3 separate regions of the Homo sapiens genome follow, and all the other regions are linked to region 1. The links come from fine-mapping of genetic effects on gene expression. A gene starts in region 1. Each other region holds a variant in brackets. All regions are shown on one strand. Distances are between the middles of the regions.

Region 1 (9,872 bases):
GGCCTCCCAAAGTACTGGGATTACAGGCGTGAGCCACTGCCCCCAGCAATTTCATTATTTTTTATGGCTGTATAGTATCCCATGGTGTATATGTACCACATTTACTTTATCCAATCCACCATTCACGGGGTACCTAGGTTGTTTCTATGTCTTTGCTACTGTGAATAGTGTGGTAATAAACATAGTGCAGGTGTCCTTTTGGTAGAATGGTTTATTTTCCTTTGGGTATATACCAAGTAATGGGATTGCTGGGTCACATGATAGTTCTATTTTTAGTTCTTTGAGAAATCACACTGCTTTCCACAGGGGCTGAACTAATTTACATTCTCACCAACAGTATATAAGCATTACCTTTTCTCCATAGACTGGCCAACATTTATTATCTTTTGGCTTTTTAATAGTAGCCATTCTGACTGGTATGAGATGGTATCTCATTGTGGTTTTAATTTACATTTCTCTGATGATCAATGATATTAAGCATTTTTTCATGTTTGTTGCCACTTGTATGTCTTTTTTTAAGATATGTCTGCTCATGTTTTTGCCTTTTTTTTTTTTTTTTTTTTTGAGACAAGGTCTTGGTCTGTCGTTCAGGCTGGAGTGCAGTGGCATGATCTTGGCTCACTGCAGACTTGACCTTCTGGCCCAGGTGATCCTCCTACCTCAGCCTCCCAAGTAGCTGGGGCTGCAGGCATATGCCACCAGGCCTAGCTAATTTAAAAAAATTTTTATATAGATGGGCCTCCCTATTTTGCCCAGGCTGACCTTGAACTCCTGAGCTCAAGTAAAGCCTCCTACCTTGGCCTCCCAAAGTGTTGAGATTACAGGCATGAGCCCCTGCATCTGGCCTTTGCCCACTTTTTAATTAGGTTTTTTTGTTGTCGTTGATTTATTTAAGTTCCTTATAGATTCTGGATATTAGTCCTTTGTCAGATGCATAGTTTGCAAATATGTTCTCCCATTCTGTAGGTTGTTTACTTCATTGATAGTTTCTTTTGCTGTGCTTTGGAAGCTCTTTAGTTTAATTAGGTGCCAGTTGTCAATTTTTTTTTTTTTTGTCGTAATTGCTTTTGAGGACTCAGGCTGATATCTAGACAGTATTTCCTAGGTTTTGTTCCAGAATTTTTAGTTTGATGTCTTACATTTAAGTCTTTCATCCACCTTGAGTTAATTTTTGTATATGGTAAGAGGTAGGGGTCCAGTTTCATTCTTCTGCATATGGTTAACCAGTTTTCCCAGCATCATTTATTGAACAGGGAGTCCTTTCCCCATTACTCATAGGTGTACAGCTTTATTTTTGGGTTCTTTATTCTGTTCCATTGGTCTATGTGTCTATTTTTATGCCACTACCATGCTGTTTTGGTTACTGTAGCCTTGTTTAGTTTGAAGTCAGGTAATGTAATGCCTCTGGCTTTGTTCTTTTAGCTTAGGATTGCTTTGGCGATTCAGGCTCTTTTTTTCATTCTATATGCATTTTAGAATAGTTTTTTTTTCTGATTCTGTGAAAAATTACATTGGTAATTTGATAGGAATAGCACTGAATCTGTAGATTGTTTTGGGCAGTATGGACATTCTAATGATATTGACTCTTCCAATCCATGATCATGGAATGTTTTTCTATTCGTTTGTGTCTTTTATTATTTCTTTCAGCAGCAGTGTTTTATAGTTCTTGTAGAGATCTTTCACCTCCTTGGTGAGATGTATTCCTAGGGATTGTTTTGTGTGTGTGGCTCTTTTTTTTTTAATGAGACAGAGTCTCGTTCTGTTGCCCAGGCTGGAGTGCAGTGGGGTGATCTCGTCTTACTGCAAGCTCTGCCTCCCGGGTTCATGCCATTCTCCTGCCTCAGCCTCCCAAGTAACTGGGACTACAGGCACCAGCCACCACACCTGGCTAATTTTTTGTATTTTTAGTAGAGACGGGGTTTCACCATGTTAGCCAGGATGGTCTCGATCTCCTGACCTCGTGATCTGCCCGCCTCGGCCTCCCAAAGTACTGGGATTACAGGTGTGAGCCACCATGCCCGGCTGGCGCTTTTTTTTTTTTTTTTTTTGACAGAGTCTCGTCACCCAGGCTGGAATGCAGTGGTGTGAGCTTGGCTCACTGCAATCTTCGCCTCCTGGGCTCAAGTGATCCTTGTGCCTCAGCCACCTGAATAGCTGGGATTACAGTTGCACACCATCACTCCAGGCTAATTTTTGTATTTTTAGTGGAGATGGGGTTTCACCATGTTGGCCAGGCTGGTCTCGAACTCCTGGCCTCAAGTGATCCACCCTCCTCAGCCTCCCAAAGTGCTGGGATTACAGGTGTGAGCCAACATGCCCAGCCTGTGTGTGTGGCTGTTGTACATGAGATCACATTCTTGATTTGGCTCTCAGCTTGAACGTTATTGGTGTATAGAAATGCTACTGATTTTTGTGTGTTGACTTTTTTTTAATCCTAAAATTTTATTAAAGTAATTTATTGGGTCTAGGAGCCTTTTGGTGGAGTCCTCATGGTTTTCTAGCTATAGAATCATATCATCAGTAAGCAGAGATAATTTGATTTTCTCTTTACCTATTTGGATGCCTTTTGTTTCTTTTTCTTGCTGATTGCTCTGGCTAGGATTCCCTAAATACATTTATATTTTAAAGTATTTTCATTTTTTGGAGTTGCATAGTGTTGCACAGTATGACTACACCATAATTTATTTAACCTACTGCCCGTTGTTAATCAATATTTTCGTTGCTTTTGATCTTTTGGTATTGCAAACAATGCTGAGGCAGATACCTTTATTATACAAATTCTGTCACACATGTGAAAAAAGAACATGCTGAACCATCTTGCCTCTTAAAGTTTCTGCTTGGAAGTGATGTCACTTTTTTCTTTTTTCATGAGCCAAAGCAAGTCATATGGCCAAGGCTTCGTTCGTTCATCAGGGCTGAGATGTATAAGCTTCCTCAGGGAGGAGTCCCACTGGAAGAGATACCAAGTTTATGTACTGTATATACCTCTACCAGTGTTTAAAAAATATCACCCTGGGCCAGGCGCGGTGGCTCACACCTGTAATCTCAGCACTTTGGGAGGCCGAGGCGGATGAATCACCTGAGGTCAGGAGTTCGAGACCAGCCTGGCCAACCTGGTGAAACCCCGACTCTACTAAAATACAAAAATTAGCCGGGCATGGTGGCAGGCACCTGTAATCCCAGCTACTCGGGAGGCTGAGGCAGGAGAATGGCCTGAACCCGGGAGGCAAAGGTTGCAGTGAGCCAAGATTGCGCCACTGCACTCCAGCCTGGGCGACAGAGCGAGACTCCCTCTCAATAAAAAAATAAATAAATATAAAAACTATCACTCTGGTTGCTGAATGGAGAATGGATTATACTGGGGAGAGATAGGAAGCTACTCGGGAGTAGAAGTGAAGAATTGACCGCAGTACTTTAGGCAAGAAATGATAGCAGCTTGAACTAGGGTGGTGGTGGTCTGATTCCAGATGTACTTTGGAGGCAGAGTTAGTAGGATTTTTTTCTTGGAGTGGGGATGGGCACAAGGGAAAGTACTGAAAGACAACTTCTAGGTTTTTGGTTTGAGCAACTGGGTGAATGATTGTGACATTTGAGTAAACAGTAACATTTTACTGAGAGGGGAAGACCTGGGGGGAGAACAGGTGGTTTTTTGACAGGGGCAGCGAAACAAATGTTCTGTTTTGAATGTGTTCAGCCTGAGGTGCCTATTAGACATCCAAATTGAAATAGCCAGTAGGCACTTGAATATGTGAGTCTGGAGATCAGACAGGTCAGAGCTACAGAAAATCTGAAGGTGTGGCAGAGCTGAATTGTAAAGCTGTGGAGCTGGATGAGATCTCCTAGGGAGATAAGGGAGAGGGATAAGGGCTAAAGCGTTGGCATACTCCAAAATATATAGGTGAACAGTGGCTTTGGATCCAGCAAAGGGGACTGAGGAGGAACCATTGAGATAGGGAAAAAAACGGTAGAGTGCTGAGTCATGGAAGCAAAAAGAAGAAAGTATTTCAAAGAAGGAATAGTCCATCTATAAGTTGGATATGATAAGGATAGTATTTCAGACTGTGGAAATCACAGTTGACCTGGATAAGTACAGTTTTTGTGGGGAGGTCCCCAGCTCTCCACTGAATGATCTCTTATTAGATCAAATTTGATCTCTAATTAGCAGTCTAATTAGATGGGTTGAAGAAAAGATGGGAAGTGAGGGATAAAGATACGTCTTTTGAGAAGTTTTGTTGGGCAGGTAATAATTGAAGAACGGGAGGGGGACAAAAATGTGAAGATGAAATGATGTGTAAGTGAAATCTTTATGTAAACTGCAAATGCTCTGCAAGTGTTAGGCTTATTTTGTTATTTAGTATTCAAACTTCTAGGAATTTCAATGCAGCTCAGTGTGAAGAATCACTAAAAAGCGACCACTAGTCCTCAACTTGAGGGCCATTAAGGGGCAAAGCCGTCTAGCCAGTGAAGAGCCAAGAAATGAAGAGACGGTTTGAGAAGACGTAGGCGGTGGGGGAACGGAAAGAGGAATCGCGAAACTAATATTGTCCTTCCAAGGACACCGTAGGGCGGATCTCGCAGCTACGGCGTTCTTTTAGGGGTGGAGCCGGCAGGAAATTTAAACTGAAGCCGCGGCCGAAAACGCCAAGAGATTGATGCTGTAGCTGCCCTGAGATAACCAGGACTGTGGAATCGGGAAGAGCTCATGGAGCTCGCGAATGTAATACGGAGGCCTCTGAGGAAGGAGTACGGAGGCCGAGAAGGAGCCGGCATTTGATGAGCGAACCGGGAAAGGGTACGGATGCCGGGAAGGGGAGAAAGAAAGGCGGAAGGGGTCGTTAATAGCTGAGGCGAGGTGCGGAGTCGTGGAGGGGGCTTAGGAAGTGACCAGCGGGTAGGTGCCGAAGCTGAGGAGGGTATAGGGGCCGGGAAGGAGCCACAGGAGTTGAGGGGACCGAGGAATGAAGGTGGCAGAGGAACGTAGGGGACAACAGCCTGGAGGGATGTATGGAGATTGAGATGGACAGGAGGTGGCCAAGAGGTCACGGCCGTTGACTGAACGGAGTCTGAAAGGAGGCGGAGGGCATGAGGGGCAAGAGCCTGGCGGGAGTCGCGGGATGTAGGTCGGAATGGAGTTGAGTCTTGCTGTTCCCAGGAGTCGCGTTTCTGTGCGCGTTTTGGGAGACAGTAGTGGGCGGGAGGCATGGAAGTTCCAAGGGTTGGTGAAGATGGTTGAGTTGCTGTTATGTCCTTTCTCAGGAGACGATTGCCTCGAGCTGGAGAGTTCCATGGCTGAGAGTAGGCTCCGGGCCCCGGACCTAGGTGGGTAACAGGACAGAACTAGGGACGTGAGGTGAAAATTGCCCCAGGGTCTCTTGGAGAAGACCGAAAAATGTTCCCCCTGTTGGAGTTTTCGATCACTCAGTGTTTTTATGTACTTATTTATTCATTTTATTTATTGGGATGGGGTCTTGCTGTGTTGGCCAAGCTGGTCTCAAACTCCTGGCCTCAAGCAGTTCTCCTGCCTAGGCCTCCCAAAATGCTGGGATTACAGGTGTGAGCCACTTCACCAGGCCCACTTAGTGGTTTTATGTGTGTGTGTGTATGGACGCAGCATCATAGACCGTTTTGGGATTCATGATAAAGGTCAAGTAAGAGTCATATTATGAACAAGATTAACAGACAGATGTGGAGTCAGGATAGAGTGACTTATTAAATATATAAATTAATACATTCATAGTTGTTTACAATAAAATCCTTAAGTTAAACACTGCTACCTAATTAGGTAAGTATTTTAGCACATGGCACTTCCCTCCGTACTGCCCCTTTAGTTAATATCATCTAGTTGGCCGGGCGCGGCTGCTCACGCCTGTAATCCCAGCACTTTGGGAGGCCAAGGCGGGCGGATCACGAGGTCAGGAGATTGAGACCATCCTGGCTAACACAGTGAAACCCCATCTCTACTAAAAATACAAAAAATTAGGCGGGCGTGGTGAGGCGTGCCTGTAGTCCCAGCTACTCAGGAGGCTGAGGCAGGAAAATTGATTGAACCCAGGAGGCGGAGGTTGCAGCGAGCCGAGATTGCGCCACTGCACTCCAACCTGGGCGACCGAGCGAGACTCCGTCTCAAAAAAAAGAAAAAAAAAATACCGTCTACTTTTACTTCTGGATTGTTAACAGATATGCCATCGGCTTGTTGCCTTTTAAACAGTAATCCACTTCATTTACTGAGTTATTCATTCTTCCCATCTCTTGTTGGTTTTTTTTCCCCCTTCTGTTTCTCTGGAGAACTTCAAGAGTGTTTTCAAAAGGAGGCTTTGTGTGATAAACTAAGAATATATTTATTTCAGCCTTGTAGTAAAATTTAAGTCAATTTTTTTTCCTTCAACACATTGAAAAATTACAGTATTTTCTCCTTGTTTTCTTCAGCATTTCTTTTTTATTCTTGCTGCTTTGTAAGTGACCTCCTTTTCTCATTAGATGTTTTAGATTATGTGAACCTATGGATTATATTGATGAAAGAAAAAAATGTTTTATTTTATTTATTTTGAGGTCTTGCACCCAGGCTGGAGTGCAGTGGAGCAATCATGGCTCACTGCAGGTTTGGCCTCACCGGGATCAAGTGATCCTCCCACCTCAGACTCCCAGGTAGCTGGGACTGCAGGCACTCAACACCACGCCCAGCTAATTTTTTTTTGTTGTTTGTTTTGTAGAGACGAGGTTTTGCCATGTTGCCCAGGCCGGTCTTCAACTCCTGGGCTCAAGCGATCACCCTCCTCAGCTTCCCAAAGTGTTGGGATTACAGGAGTGAGCCACTGCACCCAGCCCAATATTTTAGATTATACATTTTTATATTTGTTCTTAAAATTTACTATAAGATGATAATGTGTGGATTTTAGAGGGTTTTTATTTTCGTTTTTATTCCAGTTTGATTTTTTTTTTTTTTTTTTTTTTTTTTTGAGACAGAGTCTCGCTTTGTCGCCCAGGCTGGAGTGCAGTGGCACCATCTCGGCTCACTGCAACCTCTGCCTCCAGAATTCAAGCAATTCTTTTGCCTCAGTCTCCTGAGTAGCTGGGATTACAGGAGCACGCCACCATGCCCGGCTAATTTTTGTATTTTCACTAGAGACAGGGTTCCACCATGTTGGTCAGGCTAGTCTTGAACTCCCGACCTCATGATCCACCTGCTTCAGCCTCCCAAAATACTGGGATTATAGGCGTGAGCCACCACACCTGGCCTCCAGATTGATTCTTTAAATTTTTTTAAATTATTATTTTATTTTAGAGACAAGAACTTGCTCTGTTACCCAGGCTAGAGTACAGTGGCACAATCATAGCTCACTGCAGCCTCAAAGCCCTGGGTGCAAGCAATTCTCCTGCCTCAGTCTCCCAATCTCCTGCCTCAGTCTCCCAAGTAGCTATGTCTTCAGGTGCATGTCTCCACACCTGGCTTCCTGTTTGATTCTTGACATAGCTTAAAAGGCAGGCCATGTGTGGTGGCTCACACTTGTAATCCCAGCACTTTGGGAGGCCAAGGCAGGCGGATCACCTGAGATCAGGAGTTCAAGACCAGCCTGGGCAACGTGGTGAAACCCTGTCTCTACTAAAAATACAAAAAACAGAGCCGGGCGTGGTAGCTGACACCTGTAATCCCAGCACTTTGGGAGGCCGAGGCAGGGGGATCACGAGGTCAGGAGATTGAGACCATGGTGAAACCCCATCTCTACTAAAAATACAAAAAATTAGCCGGGCGTGGTGGCAGGCACCTGTAGTCCCAGCTACTCGGGAGGCTGAGGCAGGAGAATGGCGTGAACCCGGGAGGCGGAGCTTGCAGTGAGCAAAATTGCACCACTGCACTCCAGCCTGGGCGACAGAGCAAGACTCTGTCTCAAAAAAAAAAAAAATTAGCTGGCGTGGTGGCAGGCTCCTATAATCCCAGCTACTTGGGAGGCTGAAGCAGGAGAATTGCTTGAACCCAGGAGGTGGAGGTTGCAGTGAGCCGAGACTGTGCCATTGCACTCCAGCCTGGGCAACAAGAATGAAACTCCATCTCAAAAAAGAAAAAAAAAAAAAAGCCAAAGTTTCTCACAAAAAACAGGAGGCATGAGAGTTAATCCCCTTTCAGGCTGTCTGATTCCCACTTCCTAAGAAACAGCCATTTACAGCTTTTAACTATTTCTTCTAGAAGCTACCACCTTATTTCTGTAATAATATGCTCATACTGTTTTAATTGTTTTCCATTTTGAATTATGTCTTCTTTTTTTTTTTTTTTTTTTTTTTGAGACGGTCTCACTCTCATCAGGCTGGAGTGCAGTGGCACAATCATCTCGGCTCACTGCAACCTCTGCCTCCTGGGTTCAAGCGATTCTCCTGCCTCAGCCTCCCAAGTAGCTGGGACTACAGGCACGTGCCACCATGACTGGCTAATTTTTTGTCTTTTTAGTAGAGATGGGGTTTCACTGTGTTAGCTAGGATGGTCTTGATCTCCTGGTCTCGTGATCCACCCGTCTCAGACTCCCAAAGTGCTGGGATTACAGGCATGAGCCACCACGCCCAGCCAAATTTTTTGTATTTTTAGTAGAGATGGGGTTTTACCATGTTAGCCAGGATGGTCTCGATTGCCTGACCTCACGATCTGCCCTCCTCAGCCTCCCAAAGTGCTGGGATTACAGGTGTGAGCCACCACACCCGGCCTGTCTTCTTTTTTTTTTATAGAGATGGGGTCTCACTGTGTTGCCCAGGCTGGTCTTGAACTCTTGGGCTCAAGTGATCTGCCCACCTCGGCCTCCCAAAGTGATGGAATTACAGGCGTGAGCCACCATGCCCAGTCAATTTTGAATTATATCTATTGACTGTCTTCTATGGACAATAAAGATTTTTTCTGTCCTACCACTTCTCTGCACCACACACAAACGCACATGCATTTCCCACCTTTCCTTTTATCTCCCCAGTATATATGTAGTAATTTTGATTTAGTCATTTGTATTGACTTTTTTTTTTTTTTTTTTTTTTTGAGACAGAGTCTTGCTCTGTCGCCCAGGCTGGAGTGCAGTGGCGTGATCTGGGCTCACTACAAGCTCCGCCTCCCGGGTTCATGCCATTCTTCTGCCTCAGCCTCTGGAGTCGCTGGGACTACAGGCACCCACGACCAGGCCCGGCTAATTTTTTGGTTTTTTTTAGTAGAGATGGGGTTTCACTGTGTTAGCCTGTATGGTCTTCATCTCCTGACCTCGTGATCCACCTGCCTCCGCCTCCCAAAGTGCTGGGATTACAGGTGTGAGCCACCACGCCCCGCCGACATTATTTTCATTATGTAAACATTATTCGGCCGGGCGCGGTGGCTCATACCTGTAATCCCAGCACTTTGGGAGGCTGAGGCAGGTGGATTACCTGAGGTTAGGAGTTTGAGACCAGCCTGGCCAACATGGTGAAACCCTGTCTCTACTAAAAATACAAAAATCAGTAGGATGTCGTGCACGCTTGTAATCCCAGCTACTTGGGAGACTGAGGCAGGAGAATCACTTGAACCCGGGAGGCAGAGGTGTAGTGAGCCGAGATCATGCCGCTGCACTCCAGCTTGGGCGACAGAGAAAGATTCCGTCTCAAAAAAACAAACAAACAAAACATTATTCATCACTGAGCTATATAATAAGCTAGGAGATTTTCTTTGTTTTTTTATGTATGGATCACTAATTCAGGTCCAAACTCTTCACCAGAGTATGGGCCTTCTCTCAATACTTTCAAGCTCATCAGAGGATCTGTCAATTTGTCTTGGAGACATAGCGTTTTAGTACTCCAGTCTGGCCTGGCTGTGTACTAGGCCTATTGCACTGATTTCATCCTCCGATCTCCCCTCGTTATTCTGTGGAATTCTT
Region 2 (9,872 bases), 47 kb after region 1:
CTCTTGTTGGTTTCCTTCTCAGACTTGCCACCTTTCCCCTCTGCCCCAAAATGCCATGCTCCTCTCCTGGAAAACACTTGAGTTGATTCAGTAAATCGACTTCAAATACTTGAAGGCTCCCACCTTCTGTTCTCTGGCTCCTTCCTGCGGTCTATACCTACCGCCTCCTCTTCACCTCCTTCCCTTCCACACTTCCTTCCTGGGTAGCTCTGCCTGAAGCATTCCACTAAGATCATCTATTCCAAGGTCATGGACAGGCTACTGGTGACCAAAGTTGGTTCCTTTTCTCCTTTCTTTCCTCCTTGAAGCCTGGCTCCCTTGGTCGCAGCAGCCCCTCAGTGGCCTGGTTCTCCTGTCCCCCTGCCCTTCCTCACCATTGCCCATTCCCTCGTTCGTTCATTCAGCACAGGCCTTGCCGTCTGCCCTGAGTCAGCTCCGAGACACCTGAAGAGCCCTCCAGCCCTAACTACTTTACTCAGACTAGGTCCCCAGGCCTTTGTTCTTGCCTCTTCTCGCTGAGCCTTTCACTTCTCGGCAGATGTGACCGATTGGTAGCTCCACCCCAACTCCCTTCTGCTGGGTGGAATGCAGGAGCTAGCTGCCTCCAACTCACTGTGACCTCAGAAAAATGCCTTTATTACTCGGGCCTCAGTTTCCTCGTCTTTAAGTAAGGGGCTTGGATGAGATGATTTCAGGACCCTTTCCAATAATAAAATACTGTGACTGCCAGCAAATCTTTTATGTCTTTCCCTATCCTGCCACCAGCAGGAGTGCTGTATACCCGAGCACTCCTTCTCATCCTGGATCTTGGCTCCCCTTCCCAGGGGAGTTTCAGCTGTGCCCAGCTCAAACTGTTTTCTTGATCTAAAAAATGGAGGTAATCTAGGCTGGGCACGGTGGCTCACGCCTGTAATCCCTGCACTTTGGGAGGCTGAGGCGGGCGGATCATTTGAGGTCAGGAGTTCGAGACCAGCCTGGCCAACATAGTGAAACCCCATCTCTACTAAAAATACAAAAGTTAGCCGGGCATGCTGGCATGCCTGTAATCCCAGCTACTCGGGAGGCTGAGGCAGGAGAATCACTTGAACCTGGGAGGCAGAGGTTGCAGTGAGCCGAGATTGTGCCACTGCACTCCAGCCTGGGCAACAGGGCGAGACTGTCTCGAAAATAAATAAATAAATAAATAAATACGAAAAATGGAGATAATCATAGTTGCTACCTCGCTAGGAAATCACAAGAGTGAAATCAGATGTGTTTGTGAGGTATGTGGCACAGAGCTTGGCACATTGTCTCAACAAATAACATATTACCCACAGGCACACATGCCTGTGAGGCCTCCCTCCTAAACTTACATAAAGCTTATTCTCACTAATTCCCACCTGGCAGTGTCCCTTGGTAACTGGCGTCCTCATCTCGGGTGAGCATTTGTGGATGAAGCTGCTGAGGGGCACTGTGAGACCCCCTGTCCCAGGCCCCCTCCCAAGGGCCCTCTCCTGAGCTCCAGGAGGATCCCTTTTGTGGAAAAGAAGTGGCACTTGGGCCCTTATGGGTGTGACTGTATTTGTGCCCCACAGACCTCCCAAAGGATGAGTGTGCCTGGGATCCTGGTGCCCCAGGTGCCCCCAACTCCTCCCTTGGTGAAGCCTGAGAGCTTCAGAGATTAAAAGAGGGGCCACTTGGACGCCTGAGAGGGAGGAGCATGAGGTTTCCCGGGAGAGCTATGCAGATGAGAAGAACGGTCCTTGGACCCTGGGCTGGCATCTAAGAGGAAGCAGGATGAACTTCCTGTCCAAATGCTAGGCACTTCCCCTGCTGCCACCCCTCCACATCACGACATCAGGCACAGGTTCTCTCTGTGCTGGGTAGAGAGAGGACCCCGAGGACCCCAAGCCATAGAGAGGCCTGGGGTCCTGGGCAAGGGCCAGGGAGCCGGTTTGCTCCTCGGCGCCTTGGACGGTGCGAGCCCAGGGTGACTGAGCCCCTTTCATGTGCCAGACGCTGCTCCAAGCATGGGCAGCTCAGCCATCATCCCCGAGAGGAGCACTGTGAGGGGGGTGGTTTTCTAACCCCTGTGTCGTGGATGAGGAAACCAAGGCCCAGAGAGGCCAGCGGGCTTGCTCAAGGTCACACAGCCAGTTTGTGGGGGAGGCAGGATTGGGACCCCAGCCTGGAGACCTGAATCCTGCCCCCTTGACTAGCATGGTCTGTGCTGCAGGACTTAAGGCTGGTCACCAGGCCTGGACGGCCTCCACTGGCAGGAATCACTGCCGGTGGTATCACCCCAGGGCTGGGGGCAACCAGGACCTCTCCCTTACCTGGAGTTGCGGAGACAAGGTCTTGGCCCTGCATCCCCAACTTGGCCCTTATGCAGGAAAATTTGAGAGAACCGGCTAAAGAGCTAGAAGAGCAGCAGAAGGAAGGAGGCTCCGGCCTCCTAGGGAAGGGGCTTCCTAAGGGAGGCCAGAGACCCACCCCTCAGGGCCCCACAGCTCCCTCAGCAAGAGCAACCCCAAGAGTGGCATCAGGGCAGCAGAAATAGTGGCCCCAGCCTCAATGGATGGACCGAAGGAGCCAGCCATAGCTATGAAGTTGAGGTGGGGCCCCCCAGGGAACCCTATGTTTGAGGGGGAGACACAGGCCTGCCCCGATCTAAGCAGAAAACAGCCCTTGCTATCAGGGTCAGGTCTGATGAGGAGGACAAGCCCTGCTCTTCTGAAGTCCCAGTCTGATGAAGGGCCACCAATGAGAAAACAGACAGCCCTGACCTCAGGAGGGACGGTGGGTGAAAGAACGTGAAGCAAGCTTTCTGTGTGGGGATCCCACAGCTCCTAAGAGAGCTGAGGCAAGCATGAGACAGGGGAGGTGGAACCTCAGGGACTGGGGACTGTGATCAAGGGAGAGGCAAGAGGTCTAGCCGAGGCCGGGTGCCAGGGTTCACAGATGTAATCTAATCCCAGCACTTTGGGAGGCTGAGGCTGGAGGATCACTTGAGTTCAAGAGTTCGAGACTGGCCTGGGCAACATAAAAAGACCCCCGTCTCTACAAAAAGAAATTTTGTTAGCCAAGCATCGGCCTCATGCCTGGTAATCCCAGCACTTTGGGAGGCTGCTCTGCCTCCCAGGTTCACCCCATTCTCCTGCCTCAGCCTCCCGAGTAGCTGGGACTACAGGCGCCCACCACCACGCCTGGCTAATTTTTTGTATTTTTAGTTGAGACAGGGTTTCACCGTGTTAGCCAGGATGGTCTCGATCTCCTGACCTCGTGATCCACCCGCCTCAGCATCCCAAAGTGCTGGGATTACAAGCTTGAGCCACCACGCCTGGCCTTGAATGGCTCTTGAGTCCAGGTGTTGAGAACAGCCAGGACAACATGATGAAACCCAATCTCTACAAAAAATACAAAAGTGCTGGGCACGGTGGCTCACACCTGTAATCCCAGCACTTTGGGAGGCCAAGGTGGGCAGATCACTTGAGGTCAGGAGTTCAAGACCAGCCTGGCCAACATGGTGAAACCCCATCTCTACTAAAAATACAAAAATTAGCCAGACATGGTGGAGCACACCTGTAATCCCAGCTACTTGAGAGGCTGAGGCAGGAGAATTGCTGGAACCCGGTGGGAGGAGGAGGTTGCAGTGAGCCGAGGTCATACCATTGCACTCCAGCCTGGGCAACAGAACAAGACTCCGTCTGAAAAAAAAAAAAAAAAAAAAAGCCAAGCTTGGTGACGCCACCTGTAGTCCCTGCTACTCAGGAGGCTGAGGCAGGAGATGACTTGAGCCCAAGAGGTCAAGGTTACAGGAAGCTATGATTGTGCCACTGTTCTCCAGCCTGGGCAACAGAGCGAGACCCTCAAAAAATTAAAAAATAAGGTCTATTGCCTGCAATCCCAGCACTTTGGGAGGCTGAAGCAGGCAGATTGCTTGAGGCCAGGAGTTTGAGAACAGCCTGACCAACATGGCGAAACCCCATCTCTACTAATAATACAAAAATTAGCCAGGCGTGGTGGTGCACACCTGTAATCCCAGCTACTTGGGAGGCTGAGGCAGGAGAGTCACTTGAACCCAGGAGAAGGAGATTGCAGTGAGCCGAGATCATGCCACTGCACTCCAGCCTAAGCAACAGAGTGAGACTCCCATCTCAAAAAAAAAAAAAAAAAAAAAAAAAAAGATCGGCTGGGTGCGGTGGGCTCACGCCTGTAATCCCAGCACTTTAGGAGGCCGAGGTGGGTGGATCACCTGAAGTCAGGAGTTCGAGACCAGCCTGACCAACATGGAGAAACCACATCTCTACTAAAAATACAAAATTAGCTGGGCATGGTGGCACATGTCTGTAATCCCAGCTACTCGGGAGGCTGAGGCAGGAGAATTGCTTGAACCTGGGAGGTGGAGGTTGCGGTGAGCCGAGATCATGCCATTGCAACAAGAGCGAAACTCCAGCTGGGGGTGGTGGCTCACCCTGTAATCCCACCAGCACCCTGGGAGGCCGAGGCGGGTGGATCACGAGGTCAGGAGATCGAGACTATCCTGGCTAACACAGTGAAACCCCGTCTCTACTAAAAACACAAAAAAATTAGCTGGGCATGGTGTTGGGCACCTGTAGTCCCAGCTACTCGGGAGACTGAGGCAGGAGAATGGCATGAACCCGGGAGGCGGAGCTTGCAGTGAGCCGAGATGGCGCCACTGCACTCCAGCCTGGGTGACACAGCGAGACTCCATCTCAAAAAAAAAAAAAGAGCGAAACTCAATCTCAAAAAAAAAAAAAAAGAAAGTTCTAGGCCAGGCATGGTGGCTCACACCTGTAATCCTAGCACTTTGGGAGGCAGGCAGATTGCCTGAATTTAGGAGGTTGAGGACAGCCTGGACAACATGGTGAATTTAGGAGGGTGAGAACAGCCCGGGCAACATGGTGAGATCCCATCTCTACTAAAAATACAAAAAATTAGCCAGGTATGGTGACACATGCCTGTTGTCCTAGCTGCTCGGGAGGCTGAGGCAAGAGAATCACTTGACCCCAGAGGTGGAGGTTGAAGTGAGCCGCGATCTTGCCACTTTACTCCAGCCTGGGTGACAGAGCGAGACTCTCCAAAAGAAAAAAAAAAAATAGTAAGTTCTAGCCGGGTGCGGTGGCTCACGCCTGTAATCTCAGCACTTTGGGAGGCCGAGGCGGGTGGATCACGAGGCCAGGAGATCGAGACCATGCTGGCTAACATGTGAAACCCCGTC[G/A]CTACTAAAAATACAAAAAAAAAAAAAAAATAGCTGGGCGTGGTGGCGAGCACCTGTAGTCCCAACTATTCAGGAGGCTGAGGCAGGAGAATGGCGTGAACCCGGGAGGCGGAGCTTGCAGTGAGCCGAGATCGTGCCACTGCACTCCAGCCTGGGCGACAGAGCCAGACTCTGTCTCAAAAAAAAAAAAAAAAAAAAAGTAAGTTCTAGCCAGATCTGCTGGGAGCCGGGGAACCCAGGAATATAAGTGGCTATGGGGGCCAGGGAGCCATATGACCGAGTCTCCACTGGAACTAGCCCAGGGTGCCACCAGGGAGAGTCACTCTTAGGGCTCATCAGGTCTCCCCAACAGGAAGTCTAGGGTCCCAGGGCCACCGATGTGGTAGGAACATGCCTCTGGTGAAGAGGCCTGGACCACAGATTGGGCTTGCTCTGTGGTCTTGAACATGTTGGAGGACCCAGACTCTCCCAGCCCCGGGCTCGCACTGTGAAATGACAAACCTCACCCAGCCTACTGGGGGGCACTCCTGATCGGGACTTGCTGATGTGGCCCTGGGACATGGGCAGGCTGGAGCAGGACAGCCACCTTCGTGTCTGGGGTGTGTGGTGAGGGTGCATGGGACCAGATATACCAGTCCCCTCTGGTCCCAAATGGAGGGCAGAGATGGAAGTAGGACTAGGGGTGGCTAAGAGGAGTGGGGCCATGGAGTATGGGATGTGCCTTTCACCAGCTGTGTGACTTTGAGAAGCTCACATAACCTCTCAGAGCCTCAGTTTCCCCATCTGTAAAATGGGGAGCACAATCTCTCCCTCTGGGCTCATGATGAGTTTCCAGGAATACCACCTAGTAGGCCCTCATTCCCAGGAGCCTCCTCATGCCTACATCTTGGAGGAGGTTCTCAAGATGTCTCCAGAGCGAAGGAAGAATTGGCTCAGCCTTACTGAGCATCTGGGCCTGGCATGGCAGGTGGTTGGGGGTGGGGGGAGTCACTTGGTTCCCTACATTGATGTCAGCGCCTCCTGGGAAATCGCCTTCTCACCTCTCCTGGGCCTAAAATAGAGCGGGGGGTGGGGGTGTCACAAGCTAGAGGCAGTTCCCTCATCCCCAGCAGAGGCCCTGGGTCCTTGCGGAAGCAGAGGACCCAGGAAGGGGTTTCCTGCCTCCAATCTTGTTCTTCAGCAACCTGTGGTCCCCTAGCATGGGTACCAAAAAGGTCAGGGTGGGGACTCAGCGGCCCACCCACCATGCCCTACCACACCCCACACCATCTCAGGTATCTGGCCTTCAGCACCCCTAGCAGAAGTCTGAGGTCCCAGCCCTGGTATTGGGACCCAACATCCCCAGGAGCTGGGTGGAGGGCACAGCTGGGAATGTAGGTTGGGAGGTCAAGTATTTTGCAGACAGGGCAGCCTAGTCTGACCAGAGAGGGAATGCTGGGGGGCTCCAGAGGTGTCTTCTGCTCCTAAGGATTGGGACTAGCAAGGGAGGGGGAGCCATGGGGCATGCTAGCAGCATATAAGTGACCTGGCTAGTTTATATTTTATCTAGGAGGAAGGACAGGACGCCTGTGAGAGACTCAGGAACCCAGACGGACATGCCAGCCCTTCCTGATGGTTGGAGTGACAGCGATCCCTGAAGCCCTCCTGGAGGCCGGGGCATCTTTGGCGGGGAGAAGGAGCCGATGGGAAGGGGTCTGTACCGCGGGCGTGAGAGGACTCCGCAGTGACACGACCCGTAGCGAAGGTGCAAGAAATCCCAGAGGCGTAGAGCCCGGCGTTCGCCAAGAGCCTTTGCCCACCCCAACCCCAGCTTCCACAGCCTGGGGTCAAGCGGGGCGCTCCAAGCTGGGGCTGGGGCAGCCTCTCTGGGGTACCACGACAGAGGGGCGAACGTGGGCGCCGCAGCCACGCCCCTGCCCCCGGGCCCCAGACAGGCAGTCGCCGGGTCGACCCCGGGGGTACCCCGTCCCCTGCTTCCCTCCCCTACAAATCTACGAGTCCTCGGAGATGCTCAGGCAGAGGTGGCCGAGGAGAGGCCGCGGGATAAGTACGCGGAGCGCCACCGCCCCGCACCTGCCGAGGAGACTTCGAGGTGCGAGGAGGGACCCCGGGGCGGCGCCTCTTTTGTCCTGCCGCGGCGGCGGCCCGGGCCCTGCGGGGCTGGGGGGGCCGGGGGGCGGCGGGAGAGCGGAGGGCGGGCCCTGGGCTCACGTGCTCGCTGCTCAGCTCTTAACCCGGCCCCGCCGCCCCGCCGGGATGGCCGCGGCCGGAGCGCGCTGAGCCCCGGCGCCGTCCCTGCCGCCCCCACCTCTCCGCGACCCCCGCCCGGCCCCGCGCCCCCGCCCCGGCTCCGCAGCTGGCGCCTCCCCACCCCCGTCCCTGCTCCCGCCCTCCCCGCGCCGCTGGCAGCCGCAGCCCCCGGACCGGGAGGAATGAGCGAGCCATGAGGCTGCTGCGGCGCTGGGCGTTCGCGGCTCTGCTGCTGTCGCTGCTCCCCACGCCCGGTGAGTGACCCCCGCCCGGCCCCGGCGCCCCCTCCCTGCCCCCGCCCCGGGATGTGCGGCGCTTGCTGCTGCAGCCACCTTTTCCTGCAGTGCTCGGGGTGACAGCCGGTCCGGAGCGCGGGAGGGTAGGGGAGCGGGAGAGGAGGGAAGGTGCGTCCACCCACCTGTCCCCAGCTGGCCGGGCCCACCGCGTCCCTGCCCCTGCCGCCGACCGGCCAGCTCTGCAGGTCTCTGCGGGTTTGGGCGGATGGGGGGGCAGTCGTGACGGTTGGGCGGGAGTGAAGCTCCTGGCCCCCTCCCCGCGGGCTCTTGCCTCTGCAGGGCAGCCAGATCCTCCCACCCGGATCGCCCTAGGGCTCCAGGGGCCACACCAGAGTGGGGGATGAGGCATGCCCACCCCATTCCCAAGTCTTCTGCCCCAGGGTGGGCAGCTGCCTGCAGCCATGGCCTTGTTTCCCCAGGTCTTGGGACCCAAGGTCCTGCTGGAGCTCTGCGATGGGGGGGCTTACCCCAGCTGGGAGGCCCAGGAGCCCCTGAGGTCACGGAACCCAGCCGTCTGGTTAGGGAGAGCTCCGGGGGAGAGGTCCGAAAGCAGCAGCTGGACACAAGGGTCCGCCAGGAGCCACCAGGGGGCCCGGTGAGTGGGGCTGGGTGGTGAGGCCAGGGGCTGAAGCAGGCCTCAGAGCCCCAGGAAGCCCACGGGGTAACCAGGGTTGGAGTCCCCCTCAGCAGCTGCCCCGCAGGGTCCCCTTCTGTACAGTGGGCTATCCGGTGGGTGCTGGAGCCCACTGGTGGGGAGCACCAGGCCTGCCCAGCCCCAGGGCCCCCTTCCATTATTGTAGGGTCCCCTGCCCTCAGTGTACAGGGACCACTAATGCCTAGGTCTCAGGTCTGCTTTGGGTCAGCCTTCCAATGGCCCCCTGCTCTGCTCTGGCCAAAGCTAGTTGTTCTGTTCAAAACAGGGCTTGGATGGGGCAAGTTGGGGGCAGGGAGAGGCAGCCCAGATTCCAGTCAGGGATTAGGGCTCTCAGGTTCTCACCACAGCCACCTTAGTGGGCTTTCTTGGAACAACTTAGTGCTTGCTCCTGCCTCAGTTTCCACACAGTGCCCAGATAGGCTTGTTGTTCTTCCTGTCCTGGCTGAAGGTGGGGCCTTGGAAAATAACTTGAGGCCCCAAGCCAGCTCTACCTGCCTGCCCACTGTCCCTTTCAGCTGCCAGGCCCCTCCTGCCTCCCAGAGGAAGGTTAGGCATGAAGGAGATTAATTGCAATTAATAATTAATTAATATCATGTGAATAATAATCACCCAGATGGAATATTCATTCAGCACACCCCAGCGCTCCAAGAGCTGGAGCTGAAAGTGAGCCAGGCCAACAGGGCAGCAGAGGGCAGGTTGGCTGGCAAAGGCCCGGCACAAACAGGAGGTATAGGGGGGAGACCCAGAAGAGGGGTACAACTGAGGCCTGGGAAGTTTTGGCAGCGGGGAGTGGTGGGAGGTAAATTGGGCTGGGCAGAGGGAGGAAGGAGGGAAACGGAGGCTAACATTACGGACATCTGTCAGACTGGCATCTGGCCCTGCCTAATGTACTTGGTTAAAAGCCCTTAAGGGAGGGGAGCAGAGGGGGATGCGGGGTGGTGCAGGGGTGGAGAATACTGATGAAATGGATGGAGCAGGAAGGGAGCATGCATAATAGATGGACCATCACTCAGGGCCGTGCAGAGGGGCAGGGGGAGGGGGCTAATGGTCCAAGGCCCGCAGTCACTGGGGGTGGGGTGGGGGGTGGAAGCTGCCTTCAGCAACTGCCCAGGCTCCCTGGGAGGTGTGCAGTCCTAGGGCCGGGGATGGGGTGTCCTGGCCGCTGAGTCTGGCTGTCTTGCCTGGTGTCACTCCCTACCTGTGAACTGTGCACCCCGTGGTTACACTGTGGGGGAACTGATGGTCTGCCCGACTGCTGGGACTCTGGCTTATGCTTTAAGGGATGTGCAGATTGAGTCATGGAGGGATGTCACCGCAGGGAAAGGGGACAGAGTTGAGGAAAAGCCTGGAGTCAGGTAGGGATGAAAAGTCAGGTATTCCAACTGGGCAGGTTGCTCCTTCAGCCTGACCCTTTCCGAACAGAGACAGAGGTGGCAAAGGGTAGGAGGTT
Region 3 (9,872 bases), 34 kb after region 1:
ATTTTTTCAGGAATCAGATTTTACCTGTGATATTTTTCTACCATCCTGCTAATAAGACCACTAAACACTCTTTATCCCTCTTCCTCTCTGCTTCCCCTCCAAAAAACCCAGGGTCCTCCTGGAGCATTCTGCCTGGGAGTTGATCTTAGGCCCCTCAGTATCCTGAGGCTCCAGAAGCAAAGGGCTAGGAAGGACCTGGGACTTTGTGGGAATGACCACCCCCACCCTGCTTTTAGCAGAAGCCATCAGGGGCTGGGTTTCTCCCACCAAACCAGCCAGGTGTCTGATGGTGGTGGCATCTTTGGTTGGTCGATAGCCTCCAGAATCCACACACAGGAGCTCCTGCGTCCTGCAGAGGAAGGGCCCATCTAGGGCTTCAGTGTTAACTGCAGCCTATCCCCCCACTGGTGCAACCTTTCTCCCAGGGGTAGAGGCTGGAGATCTGAGTGAATGGAGAGCGCAGCCTGGGGTGGCATGATTTCCAGCTCTTGCAAGGCTCTTAGGCTTTGGCAGAGCCTTCCCTCTCAGCATTTCCTGCATGTGTGGTGCAGGCCCTGCACAGGGGCAGACAGATAGCTGATGTGTGCATTCTTCCCCTTTCAGTGGCCAGACTGAAGGCCCCGTTCCTCAAAATCGAAGATGAAAGCAGGTGAGTGGGACCTCCTTTCTCTGCTTGCCCCAGCTAGGCCTGCACAGAGGAGGGAGGAGGGAGGGGTGCTCAGGGGCCTCAAGCTAATGTGAAGACATGGAGCCCCTTAACCCTGCACCTTCATCTTCCTGAGAAGCCACTTTCTCCCATTGTCATGGAGAAGTCTCATGCAAACCAGGAGGAGCCTCAGAGTGGCATTATACAGTGAATAGTCCTCTTGGAGATGAGTCAGAGGTTAATGATCCTGTGTGTGAATTACCTCCATTTAATACTCTGCTCTATGAGCTCATGGTGTCCCATGCAGGCTCATTATTGCAACTCCTTTCCCCTTGGGTGTATGCTGACATTTCATGTCAAATCATTACCCAGTCACAGTGCTAGTATAGTCCAAGACATCATCTTGGCTGAAATTAGGGTGCTAGGGGTGGTACTGGGGATTCCCTTGTCAGGCCACCCTGTACTTGATAAAGCCTTTCTGTTTCACTTTGAAAATCGTTTTCTGGCTCATGTTACCTCCTGACAGCCCTGGGTGAAAAAAGCATGAGGAGAGCCCATCTCTTCCTAATGGGGAAAACTGAGGTCAGAGAAAGGAAGGGACTTGTGTACAGCCACCTTGCTAATAAATTGCAGCCTAAGGCTAGAATCCAGGTGTCCTGCCTACCCTGTCTTGTGTCTTCTCTGTCCACCATTATGATCTCCTCTTCCCTCGGAGCAGGAGGGTCCCATGACAATGTTAACCTAATGAGCTATTAGCAGCCATGTTGGTTATCACTGAATCTTCAGTAAGTACAAGATCGAAAGTGTATGTGAATCTATAATTATCTCAAAATTTAAATTTTTGTTTTTAATATTTTTTCCAAAAAGGCATTTTCAGACTAAATAAATTTTTTAAAGGAAATAAGTCCATGTGTATCCAGCAGAGACTACTGAGGACAGAATTGTCTGTGTGCCTCAGACAGGGAAGGGCAGGGCAGCTGAGACCAGCCCTAGGAGCCTGGCATGCCTGCCCATCCTCCAGACAAGCCCAGGGTCACTTCTCAGCACCTGCAGACAGTGCTGCGCTGGCTTTGGTGGCCCAAAGGCAAGTGGAGAGAACAATGGGATGGTACAGAGGTGCTGTCTTCCAGTTCCAGTGGGATGGATTGCGTGTTCATCCCCAGCCCCTTCACACCTATTTAAATGTAGGTAATCATGACACATATGCAACGGCTGAAAGGCACTGTTACAGCCTCAGTATCTGCACTGCACATGGCAGGCACAGGTATATCACTGTCACCAGAGAGGGGTACACATATTCCTGGCATTATAGGCCAGAGAGGAGATCCAACTGGAGCTGAGATTTCTTGTGAAATTTTTTTTTTTTTGAGACGGAGTCTCACTCCATCACCTAGGCTGGAGTGCGGTGGCACAATCTCGGCTCACTGCAACCCCTGCCTCCCAGATTCAAGCGATTCTTCTGCCTCCCGAGTAGCTGGGACTAAAGGTGTTCACCACCACGCCCAGCTAATTTTTGTATTTTTTGTAGAGACGGGGTTTGGCCATGTTGGCCTGGCTGATCACAAACTGGCCTCAGGTGATCCACCTGCCTTGGCCTCCCAAAGTGCTGGAATTACAGGTGGGAGCCACAGTGCCCAGCCTCTTGTGATTTTTTTTTTATGTGCTGTTTTGAAGCAGGTGCATTCAAAGCCTATTAGGCCTATTAGCCTGCCCATCCTCAAGTTTCAAGCCCCCTAAGCAGAAACAATATCATTGAAGAAGAAAGAAACATGCCAGGGTTGTGAGGGGTACCCCCTTCTCCTTAAGGGTCCAAGAAGACTTATTTGTTAATTCACTGCTGAGCTACAGTACTCTTACCCTGCTCCCTGAGAACCCCTGGCTTGCACTGTTTCCCCCAGAACATGGACCATTGCAACCAAACATGGTGCACCCGGCAGTTACCTCACTTGGCAGGGTTTGCGAAGTATACACAGATCACTTCTGTCTCTGCAAATCTCTTAAATGTTTGCAACTTGAGGCACACTGCCAGAACCACTCAGTCCAGGTCTGACTATCCAGAACCTTCACTGTGCCTGTCTTCTCCTTTCAGAACCCAGCCCTCAGATAGTTCTAAGGACCAGCAAGAACACTTCACAGAACAGG[G/A]AAATAACTGTTCTGGTTTAAACATTCTTCCATTTAGAATCTGCCAGGCTAGAGTCCTCAAAGATTGTTGTAGGGTCAAGAAACAAATGGGAAGGTGGGGAAAAGTAGATCAGGAGTCTGGAGATGTGGCTTCTGATCTGACCTTGGCTGCTTAACTATTTGTGAGCCCTTGAGCAAGTCACAGAACCTCTTGGGCTTCATTTCCTTAGATATAAAATAGGATAAGCCCAGAGGGTGCTTATAGGATTCCAGGGAGGCAGTGGTATGAGTTTGAAAAGTAGACAGGGAGGGGCCGGGCGTGGTGGCTCACGCCTGTAATCCCAGCACTTTGGGAGGCTGAGGTGGGCAGATCACAAGGTCAGGAGATCGAGACCATCCTGGCTAACACAGTGAAACCCCGTCTCTACTAAAAATACAAAAAATTAGCCGGCCATGGTGGCGGACGCCTGTAGTCCCAGCTACTCGGGAGGCTGAGGCAGGAGAATGGTGTGAACCTGGGAGGCGGAGCTTGCAGTGAGCCGAGATCGCGCCACTGCACTCCAGCCTGGGCGACAGCGAGACTCTGTCTCAAAAAAAAAAAAGAAAAGTAGACAGGGAGAACATATGTATTAATTTAACCTAGAAAGGCTGATGAGTTTTGTTATAGAATTTAAAAGATGTGGAGGTGAGAGTCCACTTTATCAGGGCTGGAATTCTAGGGCATTGGGCGAGGCCCCCTCCTCAGCCTTTACCTTCCCCATTGTAGTCAAAGTGGAAGTTTTCTCTGTTGCAGGAAGTTTCGTCCTTTCCATCATCAGTTTAAATCCTTTCCTGAAATTTCTTTTCTTGGACCCAAAGATGCAAGTCCCTTTGAGGCCCCGACGACCCTGGGCAGCATGCACCATACCAGGTGGGTCTTTCTGGTTCCTGAGTACCAAGGGCTGGTTACAGGCCAAAGTCCTCCCCATCGGGGGCCTGCTGGTCAGATTTGGGAATGGCCATGTGTTTGCTCCTTAGGCAAAGTCTATTCTGGGAACGTAGCCCAGAGAAGAGAGACTAGGAGCGTTCATCCATTTTATTTTGTGTTCTTCATCCGTACTGAAGAATTTAACTTGAAGAAGAAAGGGAGGTGCCAGGGTTGTGAAGGGCACCCCCTTCTCCTTAAGGGTCGAAGAAGACCTATTTGTTAATTCACTGCTGAGATACAGCACTCTTACCCTGTCCGCCCAGAACCCCTGGCCTGCACTGTTTCCCCCAGAGCATGGACCATTGCAACCAGACATGGTGCACCCAGCAGTTACCTCACTCGGCAGGGTTTACCGAGTATACACAGAAGACAATAGACCGCTTTCTCAAACTCATATCTATAGACCACCATTATCAGAGTCCCCTGGGGTCTCTTTAATTAAAAATACAAGTTCTAGCTGGGCACAGTGGCTGATGCCTGTAATCTCAGCACTTTGAGATGCCAAAGTGGGAGGATCACATGAGGCCAGGAGTTTGAGACCAACTTGGGCACACAAACATAGCAAGACTCTGCCTCTACAAAAAATAAAAATAAAAATGTAAAAAATTATGAGTCAGGCAGAGTGGCTCATGCCCGTAATTCCAGCACTTTGGGAGGCTAAGGGGGCGGATCACTTCAGGTCAGGAGTTTGAGACAAGCCTGGCCAATATGGTGAAACCCCTTCTCTACTAAAAATGCAACAAAAAAAAAATTAGCCAGGCATTGTGGTGCACACCTGTAATCCCAGCTACTTGGGAGGCTGAGGCAGGAGAATGGCTTGAACCCGGCAGGCGGAGGTTGTAGTGAGCTGAGATTGCGCCACTGTACTTCAGCCTGGGTGATAGAGCGAGACTCCTTCTCAAAAAAAAAAAAAAAAAAAAAATTAGTCAAGCGTGATGACAAGTGCCTGTAGTCCCACTTACTCAGATGGCTAAGGCAGGACAATCATTTGAGCCCAGGAGTTCAAGGTTGCAGTAAGCTATGATTGTGCCACTGCACTCCAGCCTGGGTGACAGAGTGAAACCCTGATGCAGGTTCCTAAACTCCACCCCATATCTATAGAATCAAAATATCTGATGATGGAGCCCCAAAAGCTGCATTTTACAAGCTCTCATGTGATTTCAGTGAATATCAAAGTTTAAACTGGTTGGGCCAAACATCAGGAATAACTAAGGGGCGGGGCGGGGGAGAAGATCGCTGCATTACGTGGCTCATGGCTTGTGGGCTTGTTAATGTTTCTACTCTGCAGATGTTTGAGAATTTGAACCCTCATTAACCAAAGTAGAGAAGGAATTCAGCTCAGGTGATGGGTGAGATGCCTTCTCAGACCCTTTCTAACCTCTGGGCTGTGGGGTTATAGACCAGGAGAGAACAGAGCAGACTCTCAGCCCTGGAGTTCCTGGGGCCAAGGAGGCTCTGTGGTTTCCATCAGCTGACAAAGGCTGTGGGTAAGAAAATAGTACAAATAGGAGGGAAAAAATTAAGGGAATGTGGCAGTAGATGAAATGGGAGCAAAGAGAGAAAGAGGTGAGGTTAAGTCCCAATACAAGGGATACCAGGGAGAGCCAGTCAGAAGGTGGCCCAGGCTTGGCGCTGGCAGTGATGCTAGGCCTGGGATGGCCTTGGGATCACAGAGGAGCTAAGAGGCTGTAAAGGGAAGATGAAGCAATGAAGCTTTGGTATCTGCATGTGAGGCGCCTAGGCAGGGAGTTGGCCCTGGTGGGACATCAAAGTTCCAGGCACGTGTGTATGTGGAAAATATGTGTAGGAAGAAGTGTTTAAATTTTTACATTTTTGAAATCATTATTATATTTTAAAGTTTAAAAATTTTTAAATTTAAAAAGTTTAAAATTTGTGTTACAAATGGTTTAATGTGAAAAGTCTATATTCCACACCCAGCCTCCAGTTCTATCCCCTCACTGGTGCAACCTTCCTCCCAGGGGTAGAGGCTGGAGGAGATCCGAGTGGTGCCTCACCCCTGCCAAATGGAGAGTGCAGCCTGGGGCAGCATGAAAAGAAAAAGCAAGTAACATCCAGCATAGTCAATACTGTATGATTCTTTTTTTTTTTTTTTTTTTTTGAGAATGAGTCCCACACTGTTGCCTAGGCAGGAGTGCAGTGGCGTGATCTCTGCTCACTGCAACCTCCGCCTCCCAGGTTCACGCGATTCTCCTCCCTCAGCCTCCTGAGTGGTTGGGATTACAGTGCACACCACCTCGCCCGGCTAATTGTTTGTGTTTTTAGTACAGATGGGGTTTCACTATGTTGGCCAACTGGTCTTGAACTCCTGACCTCGTGATCCACCCACCTCAGCCTCCCAAAATGCTGGGATTACAGGTGTGGGCCACCACACCCAGCCTATATGATTCTTTATGTAAGAAGAGGGAACGAAGGATACACATGTACCTATATATCCATGAACTATCTCTGGAGATAGACCACACCTGTAATCCCAGCACTTTGGGAGGCCAAGGGGGAAGGATCACTTTGAGGCCAGGAGTTCGAGACCAGCCTGGGCAACATAATGAGACCACCCCCCCCCCCCCCCGCCCATCTCTATTTTTATATTTTTAAAAAATCTGGCCAGACACAGTGGCTTATACTTGTAATCCTAGCACTTTGGAAGACTGAGGCAGGTGGATCACTTGAGCTCACGAGTTTGAGACCAGCCTGAGCAACATGGTGAAACCCCACCTCTATTAAAAATACAAAAATTAGCCAGGCATGGTGGTGCAAGCCTGTAGTCTAAGCTACTCAGGAGGCTGAGGCTGGGGAATTGCTTAAGCATGGGAAGCAGAGGTTGCAGTGAGCCAAGGTGGTGAATCTGCACAACAGCCTGGGTGACAGAGTAGACCCTGTCTCAAAAAAAAAAAAAAAATTGCATTCCCTTTTATGGCTGCAGGGTATCCATTATTCCATTGTATGGAATGTATTTACTGTATTTTATTTAACCAGTCTGTTATTCATGGATGCTTAGATTAGCTCCAATGAAAATCATGTTCAGAGTAAATTTGCAATTGCTCATTTGTGGAATAAATTCCTAAAGGTAGAAATATTGGGTTAAAAGATATATGCATTTATAATTTTGATAAATTCAGCCAAATGGCTTTTCATGGAGCGGATACCAACTTATATGTTTACCTACACTGCATGAGAGAGGCTGTTTCCCATCCCCTTGCCTCATGCTGTGACTGGCAGATATGCTGACCTCCAGTATAACAGATTAAAAACTGTATCTCAGTATAATTATAATTTTTGTTTTTTCTTACTATGAATGAGGCTAAGTAAGTTTGCATATGTTTGGTTGTTTGAATCTCTTTTTATGTGAACCTTCTTTTTATACTTTGCCCATTTTTTATTTGGTTATTGATCACTTTAATGATTTGTAAGGAGCCCTTCTCATATTAGAAAAATGAGCTCTTTGTTATTAGTTGTAAATATTTTCTTTTCTCTGGTCACTGCAACCTCCACCTCCCAGGCTCAGGCAATCCTCCCATCTCAGCCTCCCAAGTAACTGGGAGTACAGGTGTGCACCACCACACCTGGCTAATTTTTATATTTTTTGTAGAGGTGGGGTTTCACCATGTTGCCCAGGCTGGTCTCGAACTCCTGCGCCCAAGTGATCCTCCCACCTTGACCTCCCAAAGTGCAGGGATTATAAGTGTGAGCCACTGTACCTGGCAGTTGTAAATAAATCAATATATATATTTTTTTCCTAAGCCTCCCTGAGCAGAGAAGTTGTAAATACTTTTAAAAGACAAGAAAACCCCAAGTTTGTGGTTTGTCTTTTAACTCTGCTATATTAGTCCATTTTCATACTGCTATACAGACCTGTCTGAGACTGGGTAATTTGTAAAGGAAAGAGGTTTAATAGACTCACAGTTCAGCATGGCTGGGGAGGCCTCAGGAAACTTACAATCATGATGGAAGGCAAAGGGGAAGCAAGGCACCTTCTCCACAAGGTGGCAGGAGGGATAAGTGCTGAGTGAAGGGGGAAGAGCCCCTTACAAAAGCATCACATCTCATGAGAACTGTCACGAGAATAGCATGGGGGAAACCACCTGATTCAGTTATCTCCACCTGGTCTCTCCATTGACACTTGGGGATTATAGGGATTACAATTCAATATGAGATTTGGGTGGGGACACAAAGCCTAACCATATCATTTGCTAATGATTCTTTGCCATGCATACATATTTTAAAGTTGTATATAGCTGAATTTATGAGTTTTTCTGTATATCTTCTGGGGTTTGTGTCATACTTAGGAAGTCTTTAAAAGGAGTGTTTTGGACTTGTCGAGTTTGCTGGACAGCCAGATAGAAATGCCCTTTGGTTGTTAGAAATATGGGGCTGATATTCAGATAAGAATTCAGGCTTGGCCGGATGTGGTGACTCAGTCCTGTAATCCCAGCATTTTGGGAGGCTGAGGTGGGCAGATCACCTGAGGTCGGGAGTTTGAGACCAGCCTGGGCAACATGGTGAAACCCTGTCTCTACTAAAAATACAAAAAAAAAAAAAAAAAAAAGAAAGAAAATTAGCCAGGCGTGGTGGTGTGTTCCTGTAATCCCAGCTATTCGGGAGGCTGAGACAAGAGAATCACTTGAACCCAGGAGGTGGAGGTTGCAGTGAGCCGAAATCATGCTGCTGCACTCCAGCCTGGGTGACAGAGCGATACTCCATCTCAAAAAAAAAAAAAAAAAAAGAAGTCAGGTTTGAGGAAGGTTTGAAAATCCTAGCGGACAGTGAGGACAGCTGTGAGAGATCCAAGGCAGCATGAGAGAAGGGACAGACTGAACCAAGCTGGGGAGACATTCAGGGTGGAAAAGAAGAGCAGTCCCTTCACTGTGGTTGAGACCTTTTCCCTTTCATCTTTCAGGTCTCATGAATGTGGGTGTAGGTTTGAGCACAGAGTTGGAATTCCTACAAGGGATTCTTGCTGCTGCCGTCACCATCCCATCTTCACCTGTCGTTTAAGAGAAGGACGGAGATGGCTGGCGCGGTGGCTCACACCTGTAATCCCAGCACTTTGGGAGGCCAAGGCAGGTGGATCACCTGAGGTCAGGAGTTTGAGACCAACCTGGCCAACATGGTGAAACCCCGTCTCTACTGAAAATACAAAAATGAGTTGAGCATTGTGGCGGGCGCCTGTAATCCCAGCTACTCTGGAGGCTAAGGCAGGAGAATGGCTTGAGCCCAGGAGGTGAAGATTGCAGTGAGCCAAGATCGCACCACTGCACTCCAGCCTGGGTGACTAAGCTAGACTCTCTCAAAAAAAAAAAAAAAAGAGAGAGAGGACAGAGATAAGACAGGCTGCCCACAGGGAGGTCTCCAGACGTCTTCTTCCTTGTTCCCCTCTTGCCATTCTTAGATGATTGGTACCAAGCTCAGGGAAGGCCTGCCTGCCGGTGCCTGCACAGCCCCTTGGCCATCTTGGTCCTTCCCCTCCCTGACCTAGGCTCCAGGCTCTAAGTAGTGGCTCCTCCCCCCAAGGGCCCCAGCAGTAACCACTTTGCCGCACTATGTACCCTCCCCAGAGAATCCAAGGATGGAGAGCCAAGCCCACGATCAGCTGCCCACACCATGCCCAGGAGGAAGAAAGGCTACTGCGAGTGCTGTCAGGAGGCCTTCGAGGAGCTCCATGTGGTGAGCCCCTTCCCCATTAAGCAGCTGCTCCCAGAGTGCCCTGAGGGAGCCTGCTCACTGGGGATGAGTCCTTCCTATGCGATCTCTATGCTGCTATGGCTGTCCTCCAGGGCCAGAGCATGGGCTGGGAGGTCAGCTTCCGTGTCCCCCTCCCCCCAGGCCTCATCTAATGCCCTGTGCTCCTCTCCCCCGCCGGCAGCATCTTCAGAGTGCCCAGCACCGGAGCTTTGCCCTGGAAGCCCATCTATATGCAGAAGTGGACAGGATCATTGCTCAGCTCAGCCACAGCTTTGCAGACATCCCTTTCCAGGCTGGCCTCCCCAGGTGAGTGCCACGCTGGCAGGCACAACTGTGTCTGCTCTCTCCTCTGTTGCCCTCTGGGTGGGAAGAGACCCTCAGGTTGGTGGCTGCTGGGACCAGACTGTGATGTTTTCCTCTTTTCTCACCTTCCTTTCC

Alleles and levels. Positions count from the first base shown, and alleles are read on the strand shown. Sizes are in standard deviations (SD) of each study's normalised expression. Not every link is listed here.
For the expression in coronary artery of the gene that starts at base 4,618 in region 1, G is the high allele of the variant in region 2 and A is the other (large effect, 0.90 SD a copy in GTEx).

Evidence for each region. PIP is the estimated chance that this variant, and not a neighbour inherited with it, causes the effect. A credible set is the group of variants that fine-mapping cannot tell apart.
Region 2: its variant is the best candidate, but not a certain one, in a credible set for the expression of DBF4B in coronary artery (GTEx, PIP 0.53).
Region 3: its variant is the best candidate, but not a certain one, in a credible set for the expression of DBF4B in subcutaneous fat (GTEx, PIP 0.72).

Annotation. Positions count from the first base shown.
Region 1 is chr17:44,704,048-44,713,919 of GRCh38, forward strand. DBF4B (DBF4B-CDC7 kinase regulatory subunit) reads left to right here and starts at 4,618. Exons shown (of 14, transcript NM_145663.3): 1 at 4,618-4,792; 2 at 5,257-5,319. The coding sequence starts at 4,774. RefSeq lists enhancers at 4,424-4,938, 4,939-5,452.
Region 2 is chr17:44,751,536-44,761,407 of GRCh38, forward strand. ADAM11 (ADAM metallopeptidase domain 11) reads left to right here and starts at 7,453. Exons shown (of 27, transcript NM_002390.6): 1 at 7,453-7,725; 2 at 8,187-8,362. The coding sequence starts at 7,665. DBF4B (DBF4B-CDC7 kinase regulatory subunit) reads left to right here. Exons shown (of 14, transcript NM_145663.3): 14 at 1-729. RefSeq lists enhancers at 1,525-2,025, 7,094-7,645. The variant G/A (reference allele first, on the strand shown) is at 5,222.
Region 3 is chr17:44,737,776-44,747,647 of GRCh38, forward strand. DBF4B (DBF4B-CDC7 kinase regulatory subunit) reads left to right here. Exons shown (of 14, transcript NM_145663.3): 9 at 604-649; 10 at 3,561-3,677; 11 at 9,308-9,416; 12 at 9,616-9,740. LOC107985044 (a long non-coding RNA gene) reads right to left here and starts at 3,132. Exons shown (of 3, transcript XR_001752906.1): 1 at 2,588-3,132. The variant G/A (reference allele first, on the strand shown) is at 2,789.